Linked DNA regions of Homo sapiens. The protein of the gene in region 1 purifies or fractionates together with the protein of each later gene. This does not show direct contact. Each region holds a gene or a part of one and is shown in the gene's direction. Other genes may lie near its edges. The genes, in order: UTP18 and MPHOSPH10.

Region 1 (3,822 bases):
AACAAAATCCCACAGATCCCAGTGGCATAATCCAATTGAAGTTGGTTTTTTCAGCACATAAAATTGGGGTGGTAGGAAGGTGATGGTTTACTTTAGGGACCCAAGTTTATAGAAGTTCTGTCATCTTCAGGTTGGTTCTTCCAGAGTTGCCTAAGATGTTGACATCCACTTGGCTTATAGGAGGAGAAAGAGGGGATTTTTATTGGCCTTTCCTGGAAATGGTACAGGATACTTTTGCCTACATTTTGTTGGCTGGAACTCAGTCATAAGGCCACACTAGCTGAGAGGATCCTAGGAAGTGTAGTTTGGCTTTGTGCACAGGAGAAAAAGGAAGTGGATTAAGTCAGCAATTAGTCTGCTACAGTATGGGATATGCTTGTCTAACACATTCATTTTGTACATGAGAGAGGTTCAAAGAGATAGTGACTTGTTGAAGGTATACTTATTGTTGACAGAATGGTGACTAGCACTCAGCTTCATGATTATCTCCAGTGTGTTATTTTTATCTGTAAATATTTACTGAGTTTCGTTATAAGAAAATTCTCCCTTTTGAACATAACCACAGCTCCAAAAATCAACAGCAATTCATTAATATTATGAATTGTTGTATTGTGTTGCTCTTTGTTTATCCCCTCTCCCTATCATTTTAGCTTGCTTTGTATTTTGCTTAGACTTCATAGTACTTTTGAACTGGCTTGATGTCTTCTGTAAGTTTTGGAAATTCTCACCTGTCTTCAAGTATTGTTTCTGTTCCAGTCTTCCTTTCTAGATTATTAGTAATACGTATATTAAATGTCTTCCACCTATTTTTTGGTTTGGTTTTTTTTTGAGACAGGGTCTCACTCTATCGCCCAGTCTGGAGTGCAGTGACGTGATCTTGGCTCACTGTAGTCTCGACCTCCTGGGTTCAAGCAATCCTCCCACCTCAGCCTCTGGAGTAGCTAGGACTACAGGCATGTGCCACCATGCCCAGCTAATGAAAAAAAAAATTTTTTTTTGTAGTGACAGGATCTTATTATGTTGCCCACATTGGTATTCAGTGTTTTTTATCCTTTTTCTTTCTGTACTTCAGTCTGGGTATATTTTTCTGATTCGTTTTCTAGACCACAAATTCTCTCTACAGCTAATTTTGATGTACTGTTAAAAACATCTATTGGAGGCTTAATTTAATTTTATTTGTTATTATTTTTTGAGTTAGTCTTGCTCTGTCGTGTAGGCTGGAGTGCAGTGGCACTACCTCCACTCACTGCGACCTCTGCCTCCTGAGTTCAAATGATTCTCCTGCCTCAGCCACCCAAGTAGCTGGGATTACAGGTGTGCACTACCATGCCTGGCTAATTTTTGTATTTTTAGTAGACACGGGGTTTCACCATTTTGGTCAGGCTGGTCTCGAACTCCTGACCTCAAGTGATCCACTTGCCTCGGCCTCCCAAAGTACTGGAATTACAGATATGAGCCACCATGCCTGGCCTATTGGGGGCTTACTTTTAATTACGTATTTTTCAGCTCTAGAATTTCTTTTTCAAATATTCTACATTTCTGGCTCAATTTTGAATCTTGTCTTTCATTCTTAAATATATTAAACATAGTTTTTTTTGTTGTTGTTGTTTGTGTTTTTTTGAGACAGAGTCTTATTCTGTTGCCCAGGCTGGAGTGCAGTGGCGCAATCTCAGCTCACTGCAACCTCTGCCTCCTGGGTTCAAGTGATTCTCTTGCTTCAGCCTCCCAAGTAGCTGGGATTACAGACATAAGCCATCATGCCCAGTTAATTTTTGTATTTTTAGTAGAGACGGGGTTTCTCCATGTTGGCCAGGTTGATCTCTGACTCCTGACCTCAGGTGATCCACTCACCTCGGCCTCGCAAAGTGCTGGGATTACAGATGTGAGCCACCGCGCCTGGCCTGAACATAGTATTTTTAAGGTTTGTGTCTGATAATTCCGTTGTTTAGATCCCTGTGGGGATTGTCTGTTTTTCCTTGTGGTTTTTAGTCAAGTTATCTTGTCAATATTTGCCTGGTTATATTTCATTGAGTGGTGGACATTGCATATGAAAAATAATGTAGATTAATTAGATCTAGGATGATGGTTTATATGTTTACTTCTAGGTAGGTAGCTTGGCAGAGGACACTAGTAATCCCAGAACGTTTTATTTTAATGAGGAATTGTGAAGCAGAATTTCAGTTTTGGGAAGATTTTCTTATAATTCTTTGATTTCGTCTTTAATCCTAGTGGTAGCCCTTTGTGGCCGCAATCCAAAATCTGGTGGCTTACCAGACCCTGTCAAGAAGCTTAGAGCTAGTTTTTCCCTTCTTAGCTCCGCAAGTGTTTTAAGTTTGCTCAGCTTCTTAGCTGTCTCCACTGGAATCATCAGTCATCTCCAGGGGGAAAAGCAGCCCTATTTGCTCTTTTTGAAGTTCTGATACATAGATTGCTGACATTGATCATTCAGCTAAAAGTTCTGGTTTTTATTCATGTGAGTTGTTAAACTAGATCAGTAGCCAACCTGTTGCCAATTTTGCCATAATTATGAGTTGCTCTTTTTAAATGAAATGCTGGCTTTAAACTTTTATTTCACTTCATCTTGTTTTAGTAACCATCTGTGTATGTGTTAGTCTTTCATTCTAGAGTTAAACTTTGATTTTAACTATGGATGTTAAGCTTTGTGTCATCTTTTTCTTCTCCTTTAAAATTTTTTTTTTTTTTTTCCTGTTTTGCTTTTGCCAGTTGCAGCTTTAAAAAAAGCAATTGAGGTAGGGAGGCTGGAAAGGGAGTTGATGTTGAAAATATATTCATAGAAGTTTGGGGTAGGTAAAAGGGGCAGCTCATTGATTCTAAAGATCAGCCTTCTGGGTTTGTTTGACTTAGATGAAAGTGAAGAGGATGAAGATGATTTGTTGCAAAGGACTGGGAATTTCATATCCACATCAACTTCTCTTCCAAGAGGAATCTTGAAGGTGAGAGTCAGTGAAGTTGGGGGATCCTATCTAACTACTTACCTCTGCAGTTTAATTTGCTTCCCAGTAGCAGATGTATGGATTCCTATTATCTGTGGGGTTAAATATGTTTGCTGTCATTTTGCCCTGGTAAATACTTATGTTATTGTTTTTTTTTTTTCCTTTTGCAAAAAATGTTCTAGAGGTATTATGTTCCTATTGCTTGAGCTCAGGAGTTTGAAGCTACGGTGAGCTGTGATGGAACCACTGTACTTTAGCCCGGGTGAAAGCGAGACCCTGTCTCTAAAATAATAAATAAATAAATAAATAAATAAATAAATAAATTTTCCAGTAATTCTAGGAATCCCGTTTGGTTTATCTTCATTTTCATTGGCATCAGCCTAGTTCATACTGCTGTCATCTCTTATCTGGCATATTGCAGTAGCTTTGTGACTGGACTCTTTACTTCTACTTTACCTCTTTTTAAATCATTCTTTGTATGGCAGCCAGAGGGATCTTTTAAAAATAAAACATCAGGTCATGTCACTTTTCATTGCTTTTTGAAAACTTCTGAATTCCTTATCGTATTCTACACTGCCCTTTACAGTCTGGCTTTTGCCTGGATCCTTAGCCTCATATCAGACCTGTTTCCCATGATTTCCCACTTGAGTCACACAAGCCTTTTTCTGTTTCTTGGACATGCTGCTAGGTCCTTTCTTGCCTGTGAACCTTTGCTCTTTCTCTTTTGTTCTGCCTGCCTTGTCTTCAGGAAGTCCTAATGGCTAGCTCATTCTTACCTTTCTGCTCAAATGGCACCTTAGACAAGACTTTCTCTAAAGTGGTCTACACTATTCACTTTCTAACTCATCACTATGTCTAGCATGTTCAT
Region 2 (3,822 bases), on another chromosome or scaffold:
GTGAAAGGGCTGAGCATGCTAAGATGCTGGCTCAGGTGTCTCTTGCTCTTCTTAAGAGCCACCATTCCCCCACTGATGATAACCCATTAATCCATAAATGCAACTGCCATTCATGAGGGCAAAACCCTGGTGATCCAGTCACGTCCTAGAAGGCCCCACATCTGAGTGTTGCCACATCAGGGATTAAGTTTCCACATGAGTTTTGGAGGGGACATTCAAACCCTAGCATTGTGGTAGTTCTACAATTTTAAAACCATTTCTCAATGGTGTATTTTTTTCAAATGTTAAAAACCTAGTGGTTTTTGTTGAAGAATTGATCTGATTTTGTAAACTTAGAATAAAACTTAGATATATGGCATGTACAGTAAGAGATGGCCTTATAACATGTGTATAATGTTTGCCTACACTTGTGGGTCTAAAATAGAAAGGGTTTAAAGGGTGAGTATCATGTGCAGAACATCTTAAAATTTGAAATGAAACATGATAAACTAACTCAAGGCTTGACTTTTAAACAAACTGTGATGGGGAAATGTGGAATTAAAGTTGGTAACCAGGTAGGAAGACTCATTTAAAACAGAAAAAGATATTTGAGTAATGGTTTCTTTGCTTTCCTAATGTTTATTCTTTGTGACTTGAATAGTTATTTCAGGAGTTGAAAATTTTCTTTTTGCTATAATTTGCTTACTCTGTAATAAGTAATAATAAATATTTATTATAACAATGATATAATTTACTATTAATATATTAATGATAATTTATTAATATATTGATAATATTTATTATAATAATATTCCAGAGGAAGATTCTTAAGTGAACCTAGAAATAAATTGTAGGTTTTGTTATGTTCTACCTGCACTTTATGTTTCAGGCTTGGGATGATGTAGTACGTAAAGAAAAACCTAAAGAGGATGCATATGAATATAAAAAGCGTTTAACCTTAGACCATGAGAAGAGTAAATTGAGCCTTGCTGAAATTTATGAACAGGAGTACATCAAACTCAACCAGGTGAGGAAGCCTGTAAGGCCAAGCCATTATTATTAAAGAAATAGAAGTAGAGAACTAGGCTTTTTGTGACTGTTGAAATCGTGAAACAGAAATCTTGAGCTCTTTGGCTACCTCATGTAAGTATGAGACAGAGCATGCTAGGAATAGAAGGGTTCTAATATTCCCGCTGGATGTGAGGGGTTGAGGGGGGTTGCTTTGCAATTAGACTTTGGTCACCTGATACTTTTACAACTCATTAACTTTCTAGCAATTATGGTGGTGCTACAACTTTAAAAGCATTTCTCATTGATATTTTGAAGTAACTGATATATTTTACATGATTATGAATTCATTCTGATTTTTAGGTCTGTTTTTTCTTTCACTTAACTAAAATCTCTGGGCTGGGTATGGTGGCTCACATCTGTAATCCCAGCACTTTGGGAGGCTGAGGCGGGCGGATTGCTTGAGGTCAGGAGTTTTAGACCTGCCTGGCCAACATAGTGAAACCCCATCTCTACTAAAAATACGAAAAAATTAGACGGGCGTGGTGGCATGTGCCTGTAATCCTAGTTACTTGGGAGGCCGAGGCAGGGGAATTGCTTGAACCAGGGAAGTGGAGGTTGCAGTGAGCCCAGATCGCGCCACTGCTCTCCAGCCTGGGCGACAGAGTGAGACTCCATCTCAAAAAAAGAAAGAAAGAAAGGAAGAAATCGCTGGTTAAATAATAGGACAAGGTCCTATTCCTAGGAATATTATATGCTGATATAATAATCGAATTATTCCTTCACATTTGATTTATTGGGAATGTGGGTACTTAGGGATCAGATGGCATTTTTCTTCTGCAAAAGCCATTTACGATTCCCACCAGATTTTGTTAATGAATGCCCCTCAGTTAGCAACAGCAAATTGCCCTGATGCCACTGTGAAACTGAAGAACTGAAAAGATTTGAATTAAAATTCTTCCTGGCTGCCTTGCAATCCAAGGTGGTAGCTGAAGGAGGATGTGTACAGTTTCATTTGAATCTTTGAGGAGATTGGGTAGATACAGAAGGTATTTGATGACCACGAGAATTAAAAATTAGATAGGTAATGCAATAGCTTATGCCAGCTCTAAATGTTAGTTTCATTTCTCTCTTAGAAGTCAACAGCCAGTTCAGAAGTTTTTGAGGATGGACTTGGAGTTCTAGTAGCTAGGCTAGTTCTAGAAGTGAAATGATGGTAAACAGCACATGTAGGACCCTTTACTCACATTTGTGTATGTAATGTGGCTCAGAAAAATGCTGTGTAGCCAATATATAGCTACATATTTGATTTTACAGATATTGTTACCTAGAATGAGGTGAAAGGACATGTTTAGGATTTTTTAAAGTGTGAGGTACGTTAAAATAGTAAGCAGTAGTAGCGTGATGCCTGACTATGGCTGGAAGGTGGGTGCTGATGATGGACATTGGAAACAGACCTGAATGCATCTCTGTCATCAGGATCAGGAGGCAAAGAGCCTATCGTTTCCTAGTTCTGGTGGGTTTCTTTTTTTCATGTCTTAATAACAAACAAACAAAAAGCCCTCTTAGGCATTTAGAATAAGCATTTGGGGCCAAAGGGGACAGAGAGAGAAGCATGAAATTTTCTTTTTCTCTTCAGTAGAATTAAAATTGCTGTCAGTTTTTTCAATGTGATTTGTGAGAATAAATCTTTAACACATTACATGTAAATAAAAGAACAAAAAAGTCCCTACCATCCAAATGGGTATTTGGATAATTTTATGAAGTCTATATTAACACTTTACTTCTTTTTTTTCTTTTTTTTTTTTTTGAGACGGAGTCTTGCTCGGTTGCCAGGCTGGAGTGCAGTGGCGTGATCTAAGCTCACTGCAACGTCTGCCTCCCGGGTCCAAGCAATTCCCCTGCCTCAGCCTCCTGAGTAACAGGCACATGCCACCAAGCCCGTCTAATTTTTTGTATTTTAGTAGAGACAGGGTTTCATTATGTTAGCCAGGATGGTCTCGATCTCCTGACCTCGTGATCCTCCCGCCTCGGCCTCCCAAAGTGCTGGGATTACAAGCATGAGCCACCGCGCCCAGCCAGCCACCATGCTGGGCCATTTTTTTTCTTTTTAATTGATGTGAGATTTATATAACATAAAATGAACCACTTAGTGAACAAATTGGGAGCATTTAGGACAGTGTTATGTAACTACTAGCTCTCTCTAGTTCTAAAACATTTTTATCAGCCCACAATAAAGCCCCATACGCATTAAGCAGTTGCTACCCTTTCCTCACTTGCCCCAGCCCCAACAAACCCCAGTCTGCATTCTATCTCTGTGGATTGGCCTATTTTGAGTATTTGATATAAATGGAACCATACCATATGTGGCCTTCCATTTCTGACCTCTTTCAGTTAGTGTTGTGTTTTCAAGACTGGCATTTGTCAGTGCTTCATTTCTTTTTTATGGTTACACGGTATTCCGTTGTGTGTATTTACCACAGTTTATCTGCTTATCCACTGGTGGACATTCAGGCTGTTTCCACCTTTTGACTGTTAATAGTGCCATGTACATGTATTTGTTTGAGTATCTATTTTTAATCCTCCTGGTTGTACACCTAGGAGTGGCATTGCTGGGTCAGATGGTAATTCTCTGTGTAGCTTTTTGAAGACCTGCCAAGCTTGTTGCCACTGTGGCCGCATCATTTTACATTCCTACCTATCAACAATGCACAAGGGTTCCAGTTTCTCCATCCTTGCCAACACTTGTTATCACTTGCTATTTTCCTTTTAAAAACAACTGTAGCCATCTTAGGAATAGCTTAGTTTTTGACAGAAGTAAATACCAAGGTAATT

The links.
Region 2: the proteins of UTP18 (region 1) and MPHOSPH10 fractionate together in Homo sapiens (co-fractionation; one large-scale study listed by BioGRID). This does not show direct contact.

The regions. Positions count from the first base shown.
Region 1 is NC_000017.11:51,270,497-51,274,318, forward strand, and holds part of UTP18 (U3 small nucleolar RNA-associated protein 18 homolog), read left to right. Parts: intron 1-2,865; coding exon 2,866-2,954; intron 2,955-3,822. UniProt on the Homo sapiens protein: Part of the small subunit (SSU) processome, first precursor of the small eukaryotic ribosomal subunit.
Region 2 is NC_000002.12:71,140,364-71,144,185, forward strand, and holds part of MPHOSPH10 (U3 small nucleolar ribonucleoprotein protein MPP10), read left to right. Parts: intron 1-868; coding exon 869-1,006; intron 1,007-3,822. UniProt on the Homo sapiens protein: Component of the 60-80S U3 small nucleolar ribonucleoprotein (U3 snoRNP). Required for the early cleavages during pre-18S ribosomal RNA processing. Part of the small subunit (SSU) processome, first precursor of the small eukaryotic ribosomal subunit.